Linked DNA regions of Homo sapiens. The protein of the gene in region 4 purifies or fractionates together with the protein of the main gene of each other region. This does not show direct contact. Each region holds a gene or a part of one and is shown on either strand. Other genes may lie near its edges.

Region 1 (3,500 bases), on a different chromosome or scaffold from region 4:
TTAACTTGGTGTTGGAGGAGGGTTTAAGCATTAAGATAGGAAGCAGGAAATTTGATTGCTCTAAATTTAGAAATTATATCCCTAAAAATTAAAACATGAATACTGGGTGGTAATGATAATTGAGGCAAATGTATTTATTTTGGTGACATTTTGCATATATGAAGATTTTCTGAAATAGGACCTTCAAGATCCTAGGGGGTTTTGTTTGGTTTTTAATTGTGAGGAATAAAAAATCTTCTGCCCACACTGGCATTTTAAGGTGACTGAGGTCAAACGTTGTTTCCTTAGGTTGAAATAGCAGCCAAAACATTCTTCACGCAGGGGCTTGGGATATGGCTGCTGGCAACACATTTTGTTGTGGGCTCCTTAATTTAATGATAAAATTTAAGCTAAACACAAGCCAAAAATGAATAGGTTTTTTTAATTTTTATTTTTCACTAAACAGGCAATTGAAATACATGGTACAAAAATAAGTGGTAAGATAATTGTAAAATGAAATGGACAGAATATTCAATTTTCCATCTATGAAAATTTCACAATAAAAATCATAGTTTACTTTGTATTATAGGCGTGCTTGGTGGATCTATTCATCCTCACATAAGGCAACTGACAAATTCCTGAAGTTACCAATAGTTATTTTGGTGAAGATCTTTAATGCTTCAGAAGTTTTGTTTTTGCCTTAATACAGTATAAAGGGGGAAAGAGTTCAGAAACTATTTTCTAAAGTAGCTAAATGACACAAAACAAATGTCAAGATACTGTGATGCCATGCCGTGCACTTCATTTTTACACAGTAAAAGTTGTTTAAATTGTCAGCTTATTCTTGGTGAGTTAGCGGAAACATTACATGAACTTAAGATGAGCATATTTACAGACTTAAGTTTGGAAAATTCCAGCGTTCTTTTCCCCATGGCAGTAAAGATTGGGATTTACAACAAATTTCAGCATGCCTTAAGATTTGCTTCTATGTATACGCCAATAAATGTGGTTCTGGAAAAAATATATACCCCTTTATACCCCCATTTTCAAGTACAAACGGTTCAAAGCTACTACAGGTTTTAATAATCTGTTCACTTAGTAAAGGGAATTACCACTTGTTCTAAATATAAGGTGCTGCCATAAATTAGTTTACATAGTGAAGAAGAGTGTTCTTAAATCTAAGCAGCTGCACACTCTGTGAAATCCTTTCAGAATGATAGTCATTGTGGTCTGAGCAGTAATTTCCTATTCTTCGACCTTGGATTGAATTTCCCTTAGCCTACATCTTGCCTTTCCAGCATATCTTACCTCAAACCTTCTTTGTGTTCCATTCCCACCTAAGCTTCAAAATAGCCGTGTTGACGTCGTCTTCCATTTGCTGAGCTTACCTATGGATCTCCAAGAACCCAGATCTTGAAACTGCTGATCCAGCTTTGAGTATCATCACTTCCCTGTGGATTTAACTTCCATTAATTTTAAGGGACTACTAAGTTATTCCAGTGTGGCATCACAGTGCAGTTAGCAAGCTCAGCTACTTGACTCTAATTTGGCCATGTTTGCTCATAGAAATGCTGCTGGCAGCATCTTACTAGGCTGAAACAATTTCAGCTTGATTTTTTTTTTTTGAGACAAGAGTCTCACTCTGTTGCCCAGGCTGGAGTGCAGTGGTGCCATCTCAGCTCACTGCAAGCTCCGCCTCCCGGGTTCATGCCATTCTCATGCCTCAGCCTCCCAAGTAGCTGGGACTACAGGCGCCCATCACCACGCCTGGCTAATTTCTTTTTGTATTTTTAGTAGAGATGGGGTTTCACCGTGTTAGCCAGGATGGTCTCGATCTCCTGACCTTGTGATCCACCCGCCTCGGCCTCCCAAAGTGCTGGGATTACAGGCATGAGCCACCGTGCCCAGCCTTCAGCTTGAGTTTTAAGGTAAGTCTTAAACTTAAAGCACGGCGGTATAATTAACAGTTGTGTTGATACTCTTCAGTAGCATTCACAGCCAGGTCCAGGGAGTTAGCACCCTTTAGTCTCACCTTATTCAGAGGATGAACAAAAATATCTTAGATCATCTCTAGGTAAGGTAGTACTTTCTTGGGAAACAGGGTATTGTGTAACATTCTGTGCAAATTCCTGTCAGTTGAAGCTGATTATTAGTTGAATGGGAATAGAATGCCACATTCTGCATTCAATTAGTATAATATTGGCCAATTTGTTTCTATAGGGTTTTCATCTCCAACTTTTATGCTAATTAATACACTTCTATGCCTGTCAAATATTAGTAAATAAATGGGTTTAATTTCCTAAGGGCTATTCAGTAACATACTCAGTGGAAGGACATGTTCCTACTTATAAATGTACATCTAAGAGAAGGTAAAATATATCAATTTAAGAAGAGGCCGTCAGACATCTCTACCTTTTTAACCAACTCTAGGTTTTCAAGAATGTTTTACATACAGGTTTATAATTGACAATTATTTGCTAGAGTGGTTTTTCCCTTTTAAAGTCTCAGTGTGTATGGAACTAAGATGATTAATATGGCAAACTCATAAGCCATTTTAATTTTGATCATGCCCTTAAGCATTATGATAAAGCATACCACAGCAGCATCAGGCACTTGAAATACTGCATTTTATGTGTAGCTACTGTTGAAGAGCTAATCTTTAAAGAATTTAATGGCTATTTTCCAGTGACTATAAAGTCTCAGAAATTCTGAAGCAGAAAAGTCACATTAATAATAGGACTTTAGTTTCCATTGTTACTGTGCTTTCCTCCTTCCAGGTTCATTCATGGCCCAACAGAACTTTAAAAGTGCTTTTCTGTAGAATCTGCAGTTACCAGCAATAACTGATCATCTTGCTGCAAAAAGCTATAGAATTGATGCTTTGAATGGTTGATCCATAGTTTTTTTTTTTTTTAATCAAAGTACTTATGTGTCAATGCCAAAGCAACGAAGAATTCCCCTTTTTCCTTCACTATTGACAGCTTCAGTTTCTGTACTTACTGTGTCATCCTATCCGTTCCCTTCCCTGAGCCTGGACTGCTCTTCCAAGGGAGACTAGGAGTGAAGGGAGGAGTCCTCCCAAAGTTACCCTTTAAGCTTGATAATTAGCTCCATAGCCATGCTAAAGCATGACTGTAGATCCCCAAGTCCCTGACACATTTTCTTCTAAGAAACTGGTTAGCCAAGAAAGTAAAGACGTAAGCCCTGAAGATGGCAAAAGGTGTCATAATCTCCCAAAGTCATCTGTATAGATGCTTCATTTAACCCTTTTTCTTTTGCAGACAAAGGGTTAAAAATCTCTTCTTTCTACCTATATCTTTAAAGAGGGATTGACAAGCCCAAATTTCCTTTTATGAAAAGACCCAAGGTTTCTGGCCAACAATTCACTTTTTTCAGTCTCTTAGGTCCTCTTGCATGCCTGAGAATATTGAGTATTCGGAATCTCCTACCAGCCCTTGGTAAATGACCCTACCAGGTGGAATAGTTTGAGCTTTATCTGCTCTTTTTTAATGGGATAGAGG
Region 2 (2,201 bases), on a different chromosome or scaffold from region 4:
CCTTGTTGTTCTCATCCACACTTGTGGATTTCTCTATCTCATACATGCCATGTTCCAAAACATCTGTAGCCCAGTCTTTCTTTTCCTGAGCTCCAAACCCCTATGTCTCACTCCCTATTAATTACACCAATTTAGAAAACTATCAAACTGGCCTTTAAGACAAATTAAAATCAAATTGACTATTTATTCTTTACCCAGTGACTTTTGGCCATAAAACATAGTATTAATTATAGATACTAACTGTACTAAAGTTCTAGATCTCAACTATCAAAACTGAAAAAAAAAAAACCACCTAAAAGTCAACAGTATTTTATACACTTGAAAGTCCACAATTTACACAAGCACTTTCATTCTAGCTTTGTAAATTTAGAGAACAATTTAGTTAAAATTACACATTGTACTGGAACAAGAGTTTCTATTTCCCTATCCTGATTCTATTATGATTACTGAAGTCAAATAATTTGATATGACATGATTATAATGCAGTAAAACTTGTTGACAAGTCTTACCTGGAATTAAAAAATATTTAAAAATTAAAGCAAACGTAGAAAAAAATAAAAAGCATTGTTTGATTCTAACAAAATTTATTATGCAGTAATTACAAAGGTTAAAGACTCTTCCATCTCAAATAAAAATAACAGTTATAATTACACACATAATATAGTACCTTATAGAATGATTCCAATAAATATCACAGGAAATACAGTGCATTTTCAAGTTGGAGAGACAAATACTTTCTCATTCACAGTGTTTGACATAGGAAAGCCTATTTACATAACAATCTGTATAAAGTCATGCTCTTAGTAACAGTCTATACAGAGCTGTGCCAACACAATTCTTTCAGAATGTGAAGTACCGGGCAAACCACTCCTGGCGCTGGGGATCTGGAGAAGCCACTGGAGAAGCTTCACTCTGAGCAGGACTGAATTCATAAAAAGAGAGACATGTAACCCAGCATTAAGTCATTTTGCAAAATGAAGGCAAAAGCACATAAAACATCAGCATAGATTACCACAACGGGTTCCCCATGTTGTAAGTCGTGTTTTAAAGATTTGCTACCCCCTCTATACTAGAATCGGTTCTCCACTCCATGAGAGCATAAGAGTGCATCAGCAGCTCAAATGAAGTCAGTTAAGGAGGAGCCACATCACAACAATCACAAAGAACAAAAAACAACTGCAAAAATGTCACCTTCTTTGAATAAAAAATTCAGTAAGAATTGTGGGAAACGAGAGAATAAAATAATGGTCCTCTCTTTCAGCACCTTTTCTCTTTTAGCTGATCGTACAGATGTGTCCTTAAATATAACTAAAGTAACTACTAGTATTTTTTACTATATGCATTTTACATTAAATTTTCATTTCATAATTCCCTATGCAAATACTCCAGGAAAGGGAGAACACTAAAAATATAATTTCCCCCGTTATTGATGTTATATAGTTTATACTTTTCTTAATTCTAACTAAAGATTCTTTGGGCTACTTAAGAAAACAAAAGAATCCCTACCGTCTTTGGGGAAAATTACAAGGCACGCAACAATGTGTAATGGAAACTCCAGTAGTCATGTTCCTTGAGCTCATGCACATGCATCTTACTGATACCTGAACATACCCATGCACAAGGGAAAATAAGCAACACAAAATATTTAGCAGGAGACAAATTCAGAGGTGTATCTGACTAATTTTCATTCTTGCTATTTTTTTTGTTAATCATTAACTATGTCACTAATCACTTAGCCTAAAAAAACCTGCCTACTTTGTAAGACTATTACTAGTGACACTGCTAAGATTTAGTAAGAATAAGAAAAAAAACATAAAGCAGCAAAAAATCAGTAATAGTAAGATGAGCATAAAACAACAGTACTTTCTGACTTTATCTAATGGCTAAATTTCTAATGAAATTTGCATTTCATTCAAAATTTGCTAATACATTTAATCAACAACTGCAAGGTAAAAAATTGGAATGGAAATTTTTAAAATTATTTATTTTTTCTAAATTTAGTTTTTGCATAAGTATATTTAAGTTCCCAGAGTTTACGTATGTTTCTATTTTGACAATAAGCATATATATATATATATTTATAAATAATCTTGGTAAACAAGAAAGGGAAAAAAATAAACATATATAAAAAACAAAAACCACTTAGTAAACAAAAAATTATTTTAAAGTTCTACAATAAGGATGGATTGTTAATTTAAAAA
Region 3 (3,500 bases), on a different chromosome or scaffold from region 4:
ATTACTATACAAAGACAAGTGCCTCAGGGCAAGATCTTCCTGCAACACTTGAACTGTGAAGTCCAGGCCCGGCTTGAGGACCAGGTCACAGATGGCCATTCCAAATGCGAATGACCAAAAGAAGAAATTAATTGGCTAAAATCACACCTTGAAAAGCCCTATATTTTCTCAATGAAAGTTTTGACTTGGGTGAAAATAGCTTAATCCAGATTGAAGTTTTAACAAAAAGAGCAGAAATCTCAGTAGCATTCTCTCCGTCACTGTTTTTTACCTATCAGTTGCCACACGGAGCTGAGAAATTCTAGTCACATCTATTCATATCCTTGGCTTTCCTGCTAGTTACTCTTGTCTCCTTTATCTTCTATTTCATTTAGTTACTGAATGCTTACAGAAAAAAAACCTACTGTCATGTGGCTTTTCATCTAATTTTAATTTTAGTGGAACCGAAATGTAAATCAGGACCTCCAAATTTCTCAACAAGTTTTAGTGAAGGGAAAACAACATTGTGTCCTCACAAACCTCCAGGATTCTTCCCTCCCATCTCCCCCTGCCCAGCCCCCACTCCACAAATGTATCTTTTTCTATTTGCAGAAAGATTTCTTCCCTTTGGCCTTGATTCCTTCTTCAAATGGTAACAATTATACAAGATTTAAATGAATTTCACATGTGAGAGCATGAGAACCTGTAGGATTCTCAGCAACTGAGCAACACACTCTTACAACAATTGCCCTTAGCTCAAAAATAAACTCAGGGAATGATTGCATTAAGTTAAAGGTATATTTGGTTTAGGGAATAAAAATTTCCAATAAATGGCTTGGAAAACATAATCCTATTAACTTAATGGAAATTAATCTTGAGTACTATTTAGCTCTGGAACTTCAGCTGTTTTTGTCTTTTTAATTTTTTTGCCAGCCACAAAATGAAAACTAGATAATGAATGCATGGCTTATCCTAATGTGATACAACTCAACTCTATTAATATACTAATTGATATGTGCCTAATTAGCAAGGTCGTATCAATGATATTGTGATGTGCATATTTATGTAGAGAGACAGACAAAACAGTAGTAGTGATTATAGTCCTATTCTATCTGAATTAGGCTTGTCAAAAAGATATTTTCTCCTATAATGTTTAAAACATCCCTCATCAAAATCTGCAATTAAGTTCAATATTAGTATGCTTGAGATATGTAAACTGTGTTAATAGGTTATGCCAATAAAAAATATATGAACATGTATCTTTAAGGAAAGGGTCTAAACTAGAAACATCATCACATTAAAAACTGTAATCCTCTCATTTCTTTGCCACAGTTTGTATTCCTGACTCTTCTAACTCGGGAGTATCATTGTCAGTTGGGCAGCATCTAACATCTAAGGGTGTACAACCCTGAGGACCACAGGGGCCCTGGGAAACTGTGTGTTAATAAACATGCAGAGTCTAGATATGACTCAGGCCCAGCTGGCAAAGCGAGACCATATACAGTTCAACTCTTTGGTTTCATGGACCACATCTCTCTGTCTGGGCTCAGACACACTCAGCTTATTAGGGCTGAATAAGAATGAGATTCTGGGTAACTTTGGGTCTTTTTATCTGGGCTGGTCTTTTCCAGCATGTTCAAATGACATATGGGCGGCCATTTTGGGGATAGGGTATGGGTTCTTGGTGAAGGAGTGGAAATAGCGGGGGCTTTGTAGATATGGTACAAAAGGTGGGATTGGAGACAAGAGTGGAATATTAAATGTTTGGAGCTTTACTCCATTATGACCCCCAAATTTGCAGCTTCTGTGAGTCTAGATTGACCCCTCCTGATGATTGTGCTGGCAGAAACTTTAGTACAGGCTTCATGTACTTTTACCTTCCTTTACTTTGTTCCATAGTTTATATGCGTGGCTAGGTGAATGTCTGTCTTTGTTCTTAAAACTTTTATTCCTTTATAATGCTTTTGACCTCTTTTTCTCCATTATTATTCCTTTCTCCCAAATAGGTTTTGACTTGTTCCATAGTTCTATTCAAAGCAACTTTAAAACTCAACTTTTTATTTTTATAATTGTTCATTTTCCTTTATTTTCTTGGATCCTGGATGTTACTAGTAATACATGTTTTACTTGTGTGCCTTTTAGATGAGTGCCTTCAATGAATGTCTTCCTGTTATCAGGAAGAAGCTATCTAGTTTTATTTATCCATGGTTGTCTATATATTTGGCAAATATATTCTGTTTAAGTTATTTTTTCTACCTGTTCTTTTCATGCTAGCCAGATAGGCATAAATTAGCGGTATGATTGAATTCTTAGGGAGAACAGGGGACCCAGAAATAGACAGCTACTTGAGCAAGACACACAGCTCTGATTTGGCCTCAAAATGGCAAAAGAACCCTATGAATGGAATGTTATGGGTCTTTTCTGTTGAGGAGCTGCCTCTACTCTGGTTGAATCCACTCTCTAGTGCTCTGCTTTTTGCTATTGGTATAATCTGACATTATTATAAAGTCTTCTGTGCGTGGTGTTTTCTTTGCTGTAGTTCTCACTTCCTTTTTTCTCGATTAAAAACTGCCAGGAACCACAGGAAATGTGTTATCATTCAGTGAAACAAGAGCACATCAGGTTGTTCAGCAAAAATCAGAGCAGTTCATGATTTATAATCAAAAGCAACTCACGAGGATTTACCCCTCTGCCTACCGCATTGATTCCAGTAACTTCAACCCTCTCCCCTACTGGAACGCAGGCTGCCAGCTAGGTGTGTATTCCTTGGGAAGGAGTGGTTCTCTGTATATTCTCACTATGCCACCATCTTGCCTAATTCTCTCCCACTTTCAACTTGCACAGTGGCACTGAATTATCAATCTGAAGGACGAATGATGCAGTTAAACCGAGCCAAATTCAAGGCAAATGGCAATTGTGGCTATGTCCTCAAACCCCAGCAAATGTGCAAAGGTGTGTATTAATTTCATAGTCATAAATGCAGGTGTGTGTTAATTTCATAGTCTAAATGCAGGCAACCTTTATTAAGGAAGCTGTTTAGAAAGTGTGATACCCCAGAGTTTTTCAACTTTTTTTTTTCAAAAAGATAGGTTAAGGTGTTTGAATGTGAATTAGAATTCTTGTCACCACTACTTAATATTTGGTTAGCCGTGATGTTTAGAATGTTATCTTGAGAGGTCGTGTGTGAAAGAGGGACATGGATAGCATTGGGTTATCACTTGAAATCCAGTGCCCCATATAAGCTGGACTGCTTTTTAAGGTCTGAGCCCAATCTTTCAGAAACTATCTTAAGTAATGTGAGTCTGTGACCTGCTGGGAAGCTTCAATTCCACCTGAAACAATTTTATCAAGCCCTTTTACTCAGTGTAGTCCAATTACAAAACAGTGCTAACAAAAGAGAAAGGATAGGCTGGGCATGGGGGCTGACGCCTGTAATTCCAGCACTTTGTGAGGTCAAGGTGGGCGGATCACCTGAGGTCAGGAGTTTGAGACCAGCCTGGCCAACATGGTAAAACGCCGTC
Region 4 (3,210 bases):
AAGGTAGTCATTAACTCATGGTTCATTATGTGGTTGTCAACTTTAGGAAGACCTCACCTATCTGAGCTGGTCTGGTGACAGTAATATAGTTCTTTCTCTGATGGCAAGTGCCACCTTAGGATGGCAGTAGTGGTGGAACATGGGCACAGTGCAGCATTCACGAGTGCTCTGTAACACACAGCTGTCTCCTTCATCAAGACAGTGACCTTCCTTCTCTTTCAAAAGTTGTGTCCTATTCCTGACCCCAGAAGGCAGATAAATACGTTATTTTCTAGCCCAGGCTATCTTGTCTTTAAGTAAACCCACTTCTTCAACAGGAAATCATTGCCAAGAACTCCAGTGCTGAATTTAAAAACGTCCAAACCCTTTTCCAACCTCTTCTACTTCTGTACTTCTAACCCCCTCCAATCTTAGGGAATCATAATCATTGGTTTTAAAGAAGATTGTTTTTAACATTCAGTTATAGTTGTGTACCCCTAATAAGAAAAGTCGCCTCATCATTTTCACTTGCCTCATCTTTTATTAAGAATAAAATACTTTTAAGATGTAAACAAAGGGAACCATGACCAAGGATTAAGTCAACGTATCTATTTTTATTATGAAACATTAAATTTTGACACATTGCCTCATTTGCTTTTTTAAAATCTATTATCTGACTTAAACCTATTCAGCAAAAATGCCAATAAATTATATTAATCATACTTTGGGTCTTTTTAAAACTAGGAACATAATATGTTTTATGATAAACAATACTACTAAATCTGAGTTGTATGAACTGTTAACTTGAAATTTGTTTTAGATGTTTAGCTTAAAACAAAAAGAAAACCAATCACATTAATACACTGTTGCAAAAGTTTCTCCGGAATGCCCTCCACATCACTGTGTGTCAGCATCCTTCGGCTTCTTCACTGAGGTATGGAATGCAGCCATATGTAGGTGTCAAGGCACTCATTCTAAGCTGTCCTATCCTGCACATCTTAGCAATCACATTAGATGGAGGGCTGATGATATGCACTAACTCCCAACCCAGGCTATCTTGCTTTTAAATAAACTAATTTCTTTAAAAGAAAATCATCAACTAAGGACTCAAATGCTGAATTTAGAAATAATAATTCCAATTCAATACACATTCAATCAAATGTGTTAGTACTTAAAAGTCACAAATTTTGCAAAGTAAACAACGAATGAACTAAGGCAAATAGCATTGTCACCACATGCCTTAAAATGGTATATTTTTGGTGTTTGAAGCTCTTTGCAAATTACATTTTGGGACAGTTCAGATGGATTTAAATAAAAGATGTGTGTTCTACATAAATTCAGTTTTAAGGTTTTCAACATGGGTGGCAACATTACAAAAATATATCAATAGTCTTAATAGTGAATGTTTTCCACCTGGTTTCTAAATCTTTATTTTCCATGGAGGTAAACCAAAGTTTAGAGTCCATCTTCAGAGTTATGATATAATCTCTATTGTTCCTAGAGATTTGAAAACTAGATATGATCTAGATCCTTGCCAGGATCTTCACTTTCATCATCCTCATCCTCTTGGTCTCCAGATTCAAGTTCATCCTCTTCTTCAACCTAGAGGAAAAAGACGTATTTAATATTGTGAAAATCTGTTCATGTCACATTCAACATTTAACAATATATACTACTGATAATTTTTTTTTTTTCTGAGATGGAGTTTTGCTCGTTACCCAGGCTGGAGTGCAATGGTGCGATCTCGGCTCACTGCAACCTCTGCCTGCCAGGTTCAAGCGATTATCCTGTCTCAGCCTCCCGAGTAGCTGGGATTACAGGTGCCTGCCACCAAGCGCCCTGCTAATTTTTGTATTTTTAGTAGAGATGGGGTTTCACCATGTTGGCCAGGCTGGTCTCGAACCCCTGACCTCAGGTAATCTGCCCACCTCAGCCCCCCAAAGTGCTAGGATTACAGGTGTGAGCACTGTGCCCAGACAAATTTTGTATTCTAGTAACTACAGTAGAATATAAGCCATCTGATTTCTTTGATTTGATGCCAAGGCTCTCTGTCATTTCTAATATGAATGAGATATATCAGTTAACTTTGCTGATAAATGGCTACACCTCTTTACACACAAATCTGAAACAAACATGGCAAAAGATAATGACATGCTTGGGTGACTACAGTCTTGTTACCAATCAAATCAATTCACTTTCTAGGCTTACGGTCCAAAAGAAAATAGTCTGTAAGTACTGAAAACTGAACCTAATCTGTGTATTAAGTAAATTCAATGAAAACAGTGAAAACAGTATAGATGGTACCATATTCATGAACCCACATATCCATTCCTATAATACAGGCACAACTTTTCCATGTTACATTAAAAATCTTTTAAATGCATTATACTAAAACATAATACAAATCATTTTTGGAGACATTTTAATCTTACTGGATGACCAAGATCCTTGAGTTTATTCTTCAATGACAGTATTTTCTGATCTTGATCGGCCAAGAGCACCAAGAGATCATCTTGTTCTTTTTTAGAATCTGTAATTTCCAACTCTAGTTTGTCTTTCTCAGTTTGTAAAATGGCAATGGTACTATTAGATGAATCCAGCTGCTCTTTAATGGCAGTTCTTTCCTCAGACAGAGCTTTAATTTCATTCTAGGAAAAGAAAGGTGAAAGGCAGGAATCTAAAATTAGCACTCACTTTCCTAGAGTTTTTAACAAATAGTTTCTTTCTATGACAAATCACTGTACTTGTTCAACCTAAGGAATTTAGGGGTGGAGGTTAAGGGTACAGGAGGTTTAACACACACACTAACATGAATTTATTAGACTGTTCATCAAAAATGGTTATTGCCAAAAAATAGTTTAACATCCAAAAAATAGTTTTAGTTAGCTATCCCTGAAAAAACCTTTAAGAGACTTAAAAAAAACAGTACCATTTCAGATAATCAAAGGAGTAAACAGAAACACAAAGCATTTTACAGAAGAAGTCTGATTAGTACCAGAATTTTAGAACTCAAAGCTCAAGTTAAAAAAAAATTTTTTATCCCAACTTCAAGCATACAATTAAATGAAAATAGCTTCAAATAAAAATCTATGGTTTAAAAATAAAATAATTTGGCCACAATCCAAAAAGCACAATTATACATTATTTTCCTTATTTTCCTTAATGTGACCTCATTCCTTTCTTCATGCTATTTATTCTGATGTCTCTGTCACACAATAATATGCTGACAGG
Region 5 (3,500 bases), on a different chromosome or scaffold from region 4:
ACTGCTTCTGCTCTTCTAAACTAGATGACAAAACGTCCTTAGTTTCTTTATGGTCAGTATCCATTTGTTCAATATTCTTTTTGAGTTCTGCTATTTCCATGTCTTTCTTTTGATTGAGTTTAATTAAATGCTCATGTTCCAGCTGTAAGGCAGAGGTATTCAAATTACGTGCATTTGACAGTTCTTCAATGGTTTTCTCATACTTGTTTGCTTCTTCCAACAGCCTCTTTTTAGCCCAACACAATTCTGCCTCTATCTCTCCTTTTTCCATTTTTAGAGTCTCCACAATAGTGTTTTTTTCCAGAGAAAGCTGATTGTTACCAGCAAGACATTCTTCTAACTGATGCCTCACATCTTCACATGCTAAAACTAACTTTTCATTTTCCATTTTGACATCAAAAGCAACTTTCTTTAAATTTTCATTGAGCTGTTCTAATTCTGAAAGATTTTGCTTTAAGTTTCTAACTTCAGCTTCTCTTTCTTTAAGTAAGGTATCCTTAAAATTACTATTAGAGTCTTGATTTAGAGACTGCATTAACTCATTCCTTATTCTAGAAAGCTCCTCCTCATTTTGTCTAATATGCTCCTTAAGTTCTAAATTCTCCTTCTGGATGCTTACATTACTTTCTTGTGATTTATTTAGCTGATCTACTAAATTTTCTACTTTGTCCTCAAGTTTCTGCTTGGTTAAATGTAAATCATTTAGGGCCACTTCACTTTGAATTAGCTTTTCTTTCTGTACATCTAACTCTTTAGTAATGTCCATTTTATCATCTTCAAGTTGATGAACTCTCTTTTTTTCATCATTTAGATCTTGTTTCAGTTTACTGATGATGCTATCTCCTTCATTTTGTTGTTTTGATAGCTGATCTTTTATCAAAATCATGTGCTGAAAGAAAAATTTGCATGGTGACTTTACAACATGTTCTCATTTTAGTACTCAAAGAAAATTTTATAAAATCTCATACATAATAGAAAATAATCCTCAAATATTTCTAATCCTTCTTAAAAACATTGTTTTTCTATCAAAAACACCCACTACAAAATTACTTATTATTATTTTACAGCAAACCCATCTTGTCTTTTTTGTTTTTTGAGACGGAGTTTCGCTCTTGTTGCCCAGGCTGGAGTGCAATGGCACAATCTCGGCTCGGCGCAATCTCGGCTCACCGCAACCTCCGCCTCCACCTCTTGAACCTCCCAGGTTCAAGCAATTCTCCTGCCTCAACCTCCCGAGTAGCTGGGATTACAGGCATGCGCCACCACACCCGGCTAATTTTGTATTTTTAGTAGAGATGGGGTTTCTCCATGTTGGTCAGGCTGGTCTCAAACTTCCAACCTCGGGTGATCTGCCTGCCTCAGCCTCCCAAAGTGTTGGGATTACAGGCATGAGCCACTGTGCCTGGCCCCATCTTGTCATTTCTTAAAGCATTTTAGGGATAAGAATTTAAAACCAAAGATGGTAAATAGTATTTTTTTTTTTTTTGAGACAGAGTCGCTCTGTTGCCCAGGCTGGAGTGCAGTGGCATGATCTCGGCTCACTGTAACCTCTGCCTCCTGGGTTCAAGCAATTCTCTGCCTCAGCCTCCCGAGTAGCTGGGATTACAGGCACCTGCCACCACGGCCGGCTAATTTTTTGTATTTTTAGTAGAGACGGGGTTTCACCATCTTGACCAGGCTGGTCTTGAACTCCTGACCTCGTGATCCACCCGTCTCTGCCTCCCAAAGTGCTAGGATGACAGGCATGAGCCACTGCGCCCGGCATGTTGTTTATTTTTAACTCTACACTAGAGTAAGAGTCAACGAACTATAGCCATTGGCCAACTCAGGGATGCTGCCTGTTTTGTAAATAAAATTTTGTTGAAACATGGTCACACTCATTTGTTGGTATCACAACAACAGAGTTGAGTAGACTGAGACAATATGGCCTACAAGGCCAATGATATTTACTATCTAGCACTTTACCAAAAAGGTTTGTCAATCTCTATGAACTAAAATATTAATTAAATCACACCCACCATTTCTGTGTTTAGTTTACTTAGTAGAATGTGCTGCCTTACTGTATTTAATACAGTGTTACCTTTGTAGCTTCTTGATTCTGTCTGTCCAATTCTTCTATCTCAGCTATCAGTGTTTCCTTTTCACTAATACTCTGATTGAGTTCTTGTTCCTTTGCCTCCAAATTAAGTCTTAAGTCATGTAATTCTGAATCCAAACTTATGTCTCTTGTAGCTGTACTTTTAATTACTTCATATTCATTGTTCAATTTTAAAAGTGACATCTGAAGTTCTTCCTGAAATGATAAAAGGAAAAAAGCAACACATACTTTCAATTGGAGACACCAAAAGATTAAAAACATACATAGAAGCAAAACTTGGGATTCTATTTAAGTGCTCTATATTGGAAATAATATTGAACAATACCTCAATAATTGTATGTGAAATTCAACAAACCACATCCTTCATTCATGTGCAATTTTACTTGTAGCTTCAAGCAAAACATTTCTATAACCCTAGACAGATGCAGCGACTGTAAGTTTGTCCTCTAGCACCAAGTTCTTCTTTATAAAAAACGTTCCCATTTGAGAGCCTCTCCTATCCTGCTCCACCGTGGCTACCCTTTATCCATCCCCTGGCCCCACCTACCATACATACATACTTTCCAAAATGTCCGCAAGTCTTTCTGCCTTCCTCACTTCCATTCTCTAACATCCAGTCATCAACAGCCTCAGACTAAATAAAAATATAAAAAATCAACACTCCTTCACCCAAATGTTTAGCCTCTCTAATTAGAAAATAAAAGGTTTCTTTTCTCTTACTAAAGGAATTTCCCTTATTACTTTTGCTTCTGTTAGAACATGGAACTTTTTCTTGACCCTAGAAAGAATCCTCCTTCCTTCCTTTACCTTTTAACCAGACTAGGTTCCCCTCTGTCACACCTGACATTCCTAAAGATAGTATATATACATTTTATAGTCTACTACCTGGTATTTAATGCTTTCTCCAAAATCTCAGAAGTGGGACAGTTCTCTATGCTTCAACATTATTTCAGTCTCTAGTTATGATGTTTGTAATAAACTATATATTAAAGCCTTCTTTCATTGACAGATTTTTAAAAATCAAACCCATATGGAATCTACTTTAAATAGAGTATTGAACCAGGCATGATGGCATTTATCTATAGTCCCAGGAGGCTACTTAGGTGGCTGAGGCAGAAGGATTACTTGAGCCAAGGAGTTCAAGGCTGTAGTGCACTATGATCATGCCATGATCAGCCACAGCACTCTAACCTGGGCAATACAGCAAGACTCTCTCTCTCTAAAAAATAAAATTAAAAAAATAAGAATCTCAAATTCCTTCAAAGAAACAGCCTAATATAAACCTTATAAAAGAAACTCAACATTGCTATGGAGAGTTGGTTGAAAAAACAGAGATCCGATAAAAGCTATACTAGAGTATCTGTATCACAATTCTTATTTCCTTCTAATTCAAAAATTTATT
Region 6 (3,500 bases), on a different chromosome or scaffold from region 4:
ACAACAGAACTTAAAAATGAGGAAAACTGAAAAAGAGGATACTTTCTTCATAACGACTATAACACAATCTCAAAATATTAGATTGGCTTAATGATGCCATGCTTACACTGTAAGATGACATTCAGAGCATAGTGTTCTTTGCATAAGAGTTTTCCTTTAACATAAAAGTGGTATTTTTTTCCTATCATTATATTTTCATTAACTCTTCAATAATTTCTGTGGAGATTTTTGTTTTTGTTTCATATTCTTGGTCAAAAAACTCTGCATTTCCAAAAATAATTTTTTCATAATCTTCTGATGAAGTAGAATTAACTTTTATCAGCATATATTTTTAAATATTCTATGAATAGCACCTAAATATTCTATGAATAGCACCTCTGGCCTCCATCTCCTAAAGTGCTGAGATTACAGGCTAATGCCTGGAGGTGGAGGCCAAAGGATCACTTGAGCCCAGGAGTTCATGACCAGCCTGGGCAACATATTGAGACCCTGTCTCTAAAAATAAAAATTAAAAAAATTAGCCTAGCATGGTGGTGCATGCCTGTAGTCCTAGCTACTTGGGAGGCTGAGGCAGGAGGATGGCTTGAGCCGAGTAGGTCAAGGCTGCAGTTAGTTATGACCATGCCACTGCACTTCAGCCTGGGCAACAGAGCAAGACCCTGTTTCTAAAAAAAAAAAAAAAAAAAAATTAAATTAAATTAAATTAAAAAAAAGGATGGAAAATCTATTTCATAGAATATTATGCAGTCATTAAAATATGTTTTATCAATGACATGATAAAATGAATATATTTAATTTAAAAAGCAGGACTCAAAACTATATATATTATTAATTCTAATTTTATAAGGCTAAAAGTATGAACATACACACACAGAAAAAGTATAAAATATTAAATTTATATATATATGGATGCAGGCATTACAGAAGCTTTTATTTTCTGCTTTGTACTTTTCTAGTTTTCCAAATATTTGATAAGAAATATTTAAAATCGCCAGGCACGGTGGCTCATGCCTGTAATCCCATCACTTTGGGAGGCCGAGGTGGGTGGATCATCAGAGGTCAGGAGTTTGAGACCAGCCTAACCAACATGGTGAAACCCCCCATCTCTACTAACAATATAAAAATTAGCTGGGTGTGGTGGCATGGTGGCAGGCGCCATAATCCCAGCTACTCGTGAGTCTGAGGCAGGAGAATCGCTTGAACCTGGGAGGCGGAGTTTGCAGTGAGCGGAGATAGCACCATTGCACTCCAGCCTGGATGACAGAGCGAGACTCCATCTCAAAAAAAAGAAAAGAAAACAAACGAAAAGAAATATTTAAAATCAGAAAAAAATAATTTAAAAAGAGAATTTACATTAGTTCATAGATATACTCCTCCCATCCCCACAAGAAGCATTCTGGAACACTCTAGAAATTGGAGCGAAAAAGTAACATAATATTTTAAACTTAGAGTTAATATTTATCTGGGGTTCCTAAATTTAAGATTGTAGTTTGATATTAAAAATTATAAAACAGGCACTTGACCTTCACGTGCCTGCTTGGGTTTCTCCCAAGCGAACTTTCCTTTCTTTCCTGTTCTAAAGCCTTTTAAAGTAAACTTTCATTCCTGCTTGGAAAAAAAAATACATATATATATGTGTGTGTGTATATATATATATATATATAAAATAATTTTTCTACTTACCTTCTCCAACCATTGTCACGCCTATTGACATGCCTAAGAACTTGCTCTTAGTCCAGACATGCGCATTTACACACATCTTCCTCTCTGTACATTCTGCATAAAATCCTGAGACTGGAGGATGATGAGAAACCTGCTCAGCAACAAATCTGACTGTGTAACAGTCTGATCCCACCTGGGTCAAAGACTCCCCCGATAAAGGAGCATGATTTGTGACTCCCTGGGTGGAAGAACTGCTAAAAACACTGGATGCTACCTCGCTTTTTGGCATCTTCCAGGAACAGTGAAATGTTTCTCCAATGATAGGATTGTATGGTTTTTTAGCAATGGCTCCCTTACGGCCTTCATGAAATGAGGTAAGGTAGTACTCAACAAAGCGAATCATTCTGTCCTCAGCTGTGGCTCCATTAGTGATGGCTATAAATAGGTCTGGATGAGACATAAAGTCTGCATACATTTCCAGCAAGGAACGCTTCTCTAGGATAAATGTAGGAAGCACCACCTAAAACAACAATCAATGAAAGAGGGGAAATTTAATCCATGTGTAGCATATCTGTAGACAACTATTCTCTCTCTGAAAACATTTCATTCTAGATGGGTATTAAAAACAAAGTCACAAAGAAAAAGTATTCAGTCACATTAAAAAATAAGCATTCTTGGCCAGGCGCAGTGGCTCATGCCTATAATCACAGCACTTTGGGAGGCCAAGTTGGGAGGATTGTTTCAGCACAGGAGTTCGAAACCAGCTGAGGCAACATAGTGGAACCGTGTCTCTACAAAAGTTACAAAAATTAGCTGGGCATGGTGCCTTGTGCCTGTGGTCCCAGCTGCTCAGGAGGCTGAGGTGGGAGGATCACCTGGGAGGTCAAGGCTACAATGAGCCATGACTGCGCCACTGCACTTGTACCTGAGCAACAGAGTGAGACCCTGTCTTAACAACAACAACAAAAAAGCATTCTTAAAAGGACAGGCAAATCTGCCCAAGACTAAACATAAATTCAAGAGAGTCAGAAGAAACTTCAAAAAAATCCTCAAACTTCTAGACTGGATAAAAGTATCACCAGGGAAATGGTGTTAAAACTCAAAGTAAATGTTAGCCATGCCTTTGCTCCTTTCCTATGTTAAAATTAAATTGTAGATGAATGACCAAGACATGAGAAAAGTCAATAAATGTCATTCCCTGAGAACAGACTAAAGAGATCACAGACCGAAGCAAAAACTGCAACATATATTTAATCTTAAGCACAAGAGAACTATTTCCAATAAGAGAAATTTTTATACTTAAAACCAGGTAAGTGTAAGAAAGATAAATATTTTACTTAAAGCAGAGTTGGGAGAGGCACTGCAAAATGGTTTAAACGTCTGAGAAAGCAAAATCTGGCAATATTTTTCAAGAGCCCTAAGATGTTCTTACCCATTTAGCCTAGTACTTACATTCCAAGAATCTAGCCTTAGGAAATAAATAATTGAATGAAGGAAAAGCAATGTGAAAAAATAATTAGAACAACCTGCATTTTAAACTACGGTTCTAGCTAACTGAAGTAGGGAACTTTCATTTAATTGACTATTATAGTCATTTAAAAAGACGGTTTTGAAGATGATACAAATAATACAAAAGACAGTGGATGTTGCAGGTTCAGCTGGTGAATTGAACACATGCATCTTAATTTCACTTTCTGTCGAAATTCCACTGAAATTAAATTAACTTCATATAAAGACAAACCCAGAGATACCAGGAAAGTAGACAAAACACAACAAAATTTTGAGAGTTCCTAACTAGAAAGCTGAAACTTAGGCAGTAGGTTACAATATGCACAGAT
Region 7 (3,500 bases), on a different chromosome or scaffold from region 4:
TCACATTTTAACTTTCCTCACATTTTCCAAATCACTGATACTAACTACAAAAACCCAGACATGGCTGGGCACGGTGGCTCACGCCTGTAATTCCAGCACTTTGGGAGGCCAAGGCAGGTGGATCACTTGAGGTCAGGAGTTCGAGACCAGCCTGGCCAACATGGTGAAACCCCATCTCTACTAAAAACACGAAAATTAGCCAGGCATGGTGATGGGTGCCTGTAGTCCCAGCTATTCGAGAGGCTGAGGCAGGAGAACTGCTTGAACCCAGAAGGTGGAGGTTGCAGTGAGCCAAGATCGTGCCACTGCACTCCAGCCTGGGCAACAGAGCGAGACTCCGTCTCAAAAATAAAAAACAAAAAACAAACAAACAAAAAACAAGAAAAACAAAAACCCAGGCACACAGAAATAGCTTAAAATCTAATCATACTTAAATATAAAAGGTAGATAGATCCAAAACCAAACTTCAAAATTTACTCATAATATGCACTCAAATATGCAAGACATACGTGTATCTGAATATTTAGTGGATATTCCTCAAGGCTTGCCCACTTTCAACTTAGACTAAGAACTAATCATTTAATAGAACATCACGTGCCAAATACTAGGTACTTGGGTACACAAAAATATTCCTTCAGTGATTTCACAGTAAACAAACAAGTTAAAAAATAAAAAGATTGGAACAACATTTCCTGGTAAAACTTACCATGGCATCTTCCATATCATAGCCAGTGTAAGAAATCACAGCAACGATGGCATTGGTCCCAATTGGATAGTTATCCATGTCATAATAATCATACATGGAGGGTCTCACCAAGGGACTCTGAGGAGTCTGAAGACGATACAGTTTGTTATCCGATCGGTCTTGATAAGTGAGAAGTGGAAAGCCCATAGTTTGCTTACCTACATGGAGAAAAAACATCTTAGCATTTTCTGCTGCTTTCATCTTGATTATAGGTGTGATACGCAACACTGGAAACAACTAAATATCCATCAGAGGAAAATGAACAAATAAATAGTCATGGTAGTTATGCTTACTTTAGACTAATACATAAGCTGTGAAAATGAAGTAAACCTAAATGTATCAACGTGACCAGACCAGGAAAACCATGCTGAGTGGGAGAAAGTGCAGACTGACATTTAATATGATACGATTTATGTGTATTTGCAACACACCCCAAACAATTCTATACTTAGTTTATGGATACATGTATGATGTAATAAAAGCTTTAGAAGGGGACAGAAAGGAAGTACGCAAATTACAGGCTATCACTACTCGGGGAAGAAAAGGGGATAGGAATTATTACGTAATTAGATTACTTTCTTACAGCGGAATATGTATTTAATTCTAAGTAGTGGAGCATGGGGTGAGATTCCTCTGTGTACTACCTCACAGTACAGAGAATCATTTCACGACAAAATGATTTTAAAATATAAATACATACAAGTGAAATTTTTAAAAAAATTATAGACTTAGAGCTTCCAGTAATAAAGGGCTACTCTTACTAGACCACCCTCAACACATAAGTATGAGACGCAGACCCCCAACTACACATACAGCACTGGAGAGTAACCAAAAGCTGTCAGAAGCTGAGAAGAATTTTTACTTGGACAAAAGGAACACACTGGGTGAATTTCCAGGTTTTTAAGTATTTATGTATTTATTTTTGCCTTATGGCCCAGTGTGGCAGCTACAACTTAGATAGAAACCCACAATCTTACTGGCTTGAAGAACCAAGAAATAGAGTTCTGAGCATGACAACAATTGGGAAGGGGGAACATTTCAGAAATGAGAGAACCACAAAGGGAGACCCTTAAATTCAGCATATAAATTGGGTCCGAATCTTTGGTGGACTCCTGAACTATGCATGCATGGGACAGATCACAGCAGCCCACCTAAGGCTGAAGAATGTACTTCAACTGCCACGTTCACCAAGTTAAGTACCAGTGAAAACTAAAAACCAATCCTCTTCCCCTGGAGAATTTTTGGTGACATGCACTGAACCAGGTGATGGACTGTGTATTAAGAAGGAAAGACATAAAATGAAAAAAATTAAAATGTAATTGAAGGCCAAACACCACACTAAAAACAAACAAAACCAATCCTCTTCAGAGGACCCTAACAGGATCCAGGGTTTAAAACATACTCCTCGCAATGTTCATAATACAATCCGATATTACTGGGCATACAAAGAAATGGTGAAACTTGACTTATACTCAAAGAGACTGATACTAAGATGACCCAGACATTGGAATCTGCAGATAATGATTTTACAACACCCATCATATAAAACTATGTTCAAAATATAAAGGAAAACATGCCCACAATGAATGAAGATAAGAAATCTTAGAGAAGAAAGAAACTATAAAAAAAGAAACAAGTCAGGCCAGGCGCAATGGCTCATGCCTGTAATCCCAGCACTTTGGGAGGCTGAGGCAGGCAGATCATTTGAGGTCAGGAGTTTGAGACCAGCCTGGCCAACATGATAAAACCCTGCCTCTACTAAAAATACAAAAAATTAGCTGGGCATGGTGGCACATGCCTGTAATCTCAGCTACTCAGGAGGTAGAGGCAGGAAAATTGCTTGAACTGGGGAGGCAGAGGTTGCAGTGAGCCAAGATCGTGCCACTGCACTCCAGCCTGGGTGACAGAGCGATACCCTGTCTCAAAAAAAAAAAAAAGAAAAAAAAAAGAAACAAGTAGAAGTGCTGGACTTGAAAAATACAGGCATGCACTGCATAACAATGTTTTAGTCAATGCAGGATGGCATATATACTATGGTGATCCCATATTTTTACTGTACCTTTTCTATGTTTAGCTACACAAATCCTTGCCATTGTCTTACAACTGTAGACAGTACACAGTACAGTTACATGCCACCCAGGTTTGTAGCCTAGGAGCAACAGGCTATACCATATACTAGGTGTGTAGTAGTCTCTGCCATCTAGGTTTGTGTAAGTTCACTCTATGATGTTCACACTACGACAAAATCACATATGACTCACTTCTTCGAAGGTATCCCTGTCGTTAAGGGCACATGACTGTAAGCAAAAATTCAGTAGAAGACAGAATAAAAAGTGACTGTGATAATAGGTCAATAAAAATAATCCAATCTGGGCCAGGTGCAGTGGCTCACACCTGTAACCCCAGCATTTTGGGAGGCTGAGGCAGGCAGATCACTTCAGGTCAGGAGTTTGAGACCAGCCAGGCCAACATGGTGAAACCGTATCTCTACTAAAACACAAAAATTAGCTGGGCATGGTGGTGTGTGCCTGTAATCCCAGCTCCTCAGGAGGCTGAGGCAGGAGAATTTATTGAACATGGGAGGCAGAGGTTGCAGTGAGCCGAGATTGTACCACTGCACTCCAGTCTGGGCAACAAAGTGAGACTCCATCTCGGGAAAAAAAAAAAAAGATCCAATCTGAAGAAAATAAAGAAAAAAGAGAACAGAAACTCAATGTCTTATGGAACAATATCAAAAGGTTTAAATATATGAATA

What was found.
Region 1: the proteins of USO1 (region 4) and CEP68 purify together in Homo sapiens (affinity purification with mass spectrometry, with the first as the bait; one large-scale study listed by BioGRID). This does not show direct contact.
Region 2: the proteins of USO1 (region 4) and FAM184A purify together in Homo sapiens (affinity purification with mass spectrometry, with the first as the bait; one large-scale study listed by BioGRID). This does not show direct contact.
Region 3: the proteins of USO1 (region 4) and PLCH1 fractionate together in Homo sapiens (co-fractionation; one large-scale study listed by BioGRID). This does not show direct contact.
Region 5: the proteins of USO1 (region 4) and TRIP11 purify together in Homo sapiens (affinity purification with mass spectrometry, with the first as the bait; one large-scale study listed by BioGRID). This does not show direct contact.
Region 6: the proteins of USO1 (region 4) and OSBPL11 purify together in Homo sapiens (co-immunoprecipitation; one large-scale study listed by IntAct). This does not show direct contact.
Region 7: the proteins of USO1 (region 4) and POLR1B fractionate together in Homo sapiens (co-fractionation; one large-scale study listed by BioGRID). This does not show direct contact.

Annotation. Positions count from the first base shown.
Region 1 is NC_000002.12:65,083,916-65,087,415, reverse strand, and holds the end of CEP68 (centrosomal protein of 68 kDa), read right to left. Parts: 3' UTR 412-3,500; downstream 1-411. UniProt on the Homo sapiens protein: Involved in maintenance of centrosome cohesion, probably as part of a linker structure which prevents centrosome splitting. Required for localization of CDK5RAP2 to the centrosome during interphase. Contributes to CROCC/rootletin filament formation.
Region 2 is NC_000006.12:118,959,263-118,961,463, forward strand, and holds the end of FAM184A (protein FAM184A), read right to left. Parts: intron 923-2,201; coding exon 841-922; 3' UTR 501-840; downstream 1-500.
Region 3 is NC_000003.12:155,493,572-155,497,071, reverse strand, and holds part of PLCH1 (1-phosphatidylinositol 4,5-bisphosphate phosphodiesterase eta-1), read left to right. Parts: intron 1-2,554; coding exon 2,555-2,734; intron 2,735-2,823; coding exon 2,824-2,931; intron 2,932-3,500. UniProt on the Homo sapiens protein: The production of the second messenger molecules diacylglycerol (DAG) and inositol 1,4,5-trisphosphate (IP3) is mediated by calcium-activated phosphatidylinositol-specific phospholipase C enzymes.
Region 4 is NC_000004.12:75,811,577-75,814,786, reverse strand, and holds the end of USO1 (general vesicular transport factor p115), read right to left. Parts: intron 2,628-3,210; coding exon 2,412-2,627; intron 1,582-2,411; coding exon 1,492-1,581; 3' UTR 501-1,491; downstream 1-500. UniProt on the Homo sapiens protein: General vesicular transport factor required for intercisternal transport in the Golgi stack; it is required for transcytotic fusion and/or subsequent binding of the vesicles to the target membrane.
Region 5 is NC_000014.9:92,005,560-92,009,059, forward strand, and holds part of TRIP11 (thyroid receptor-interacting protein 11), read right to left. Parts: intron 2,294-3,500; coding exon 2,081-2,293; intron 890-2,080; coding exon 1-889.
Region 6 is NC_000003.12:125,550,498-125,553,997, forward strand, and holds part of OSBPL11 (oxysterol-binding protein-related protein 11), read right to left. Parts: intron 2,183-3,500; coding exon 1,684-2,182; intron 1-1,683. UniProt on the Homo sapiens protein: Plays a role in regulating ADIPOQ and FABP4 levels in differentiating adipocytes and is also involved in regulation of adipocyte triglyceride storage. Weakly binds 25-hydroxycholesterol. Interacts with OSBPL9 to function as lipid transfer proteins.
Region 7 is NC_000002.12:112,569,965-112,573,464, reverse strand, and holds part of POLR1B (DNA-directed RNA polymerase I subunit RPA2), read right to left. Parts: intron 904-3,500; coding exon 707-903; intron 1-706. UniProt on the Homo sapiens protein: Catalytic core component of RNA polymerase I (Pol I), a DNA-dependent RNA polymerase which synthesizes ribosomal RNA precursors using the four ribonucleoside triphosphates as substrates.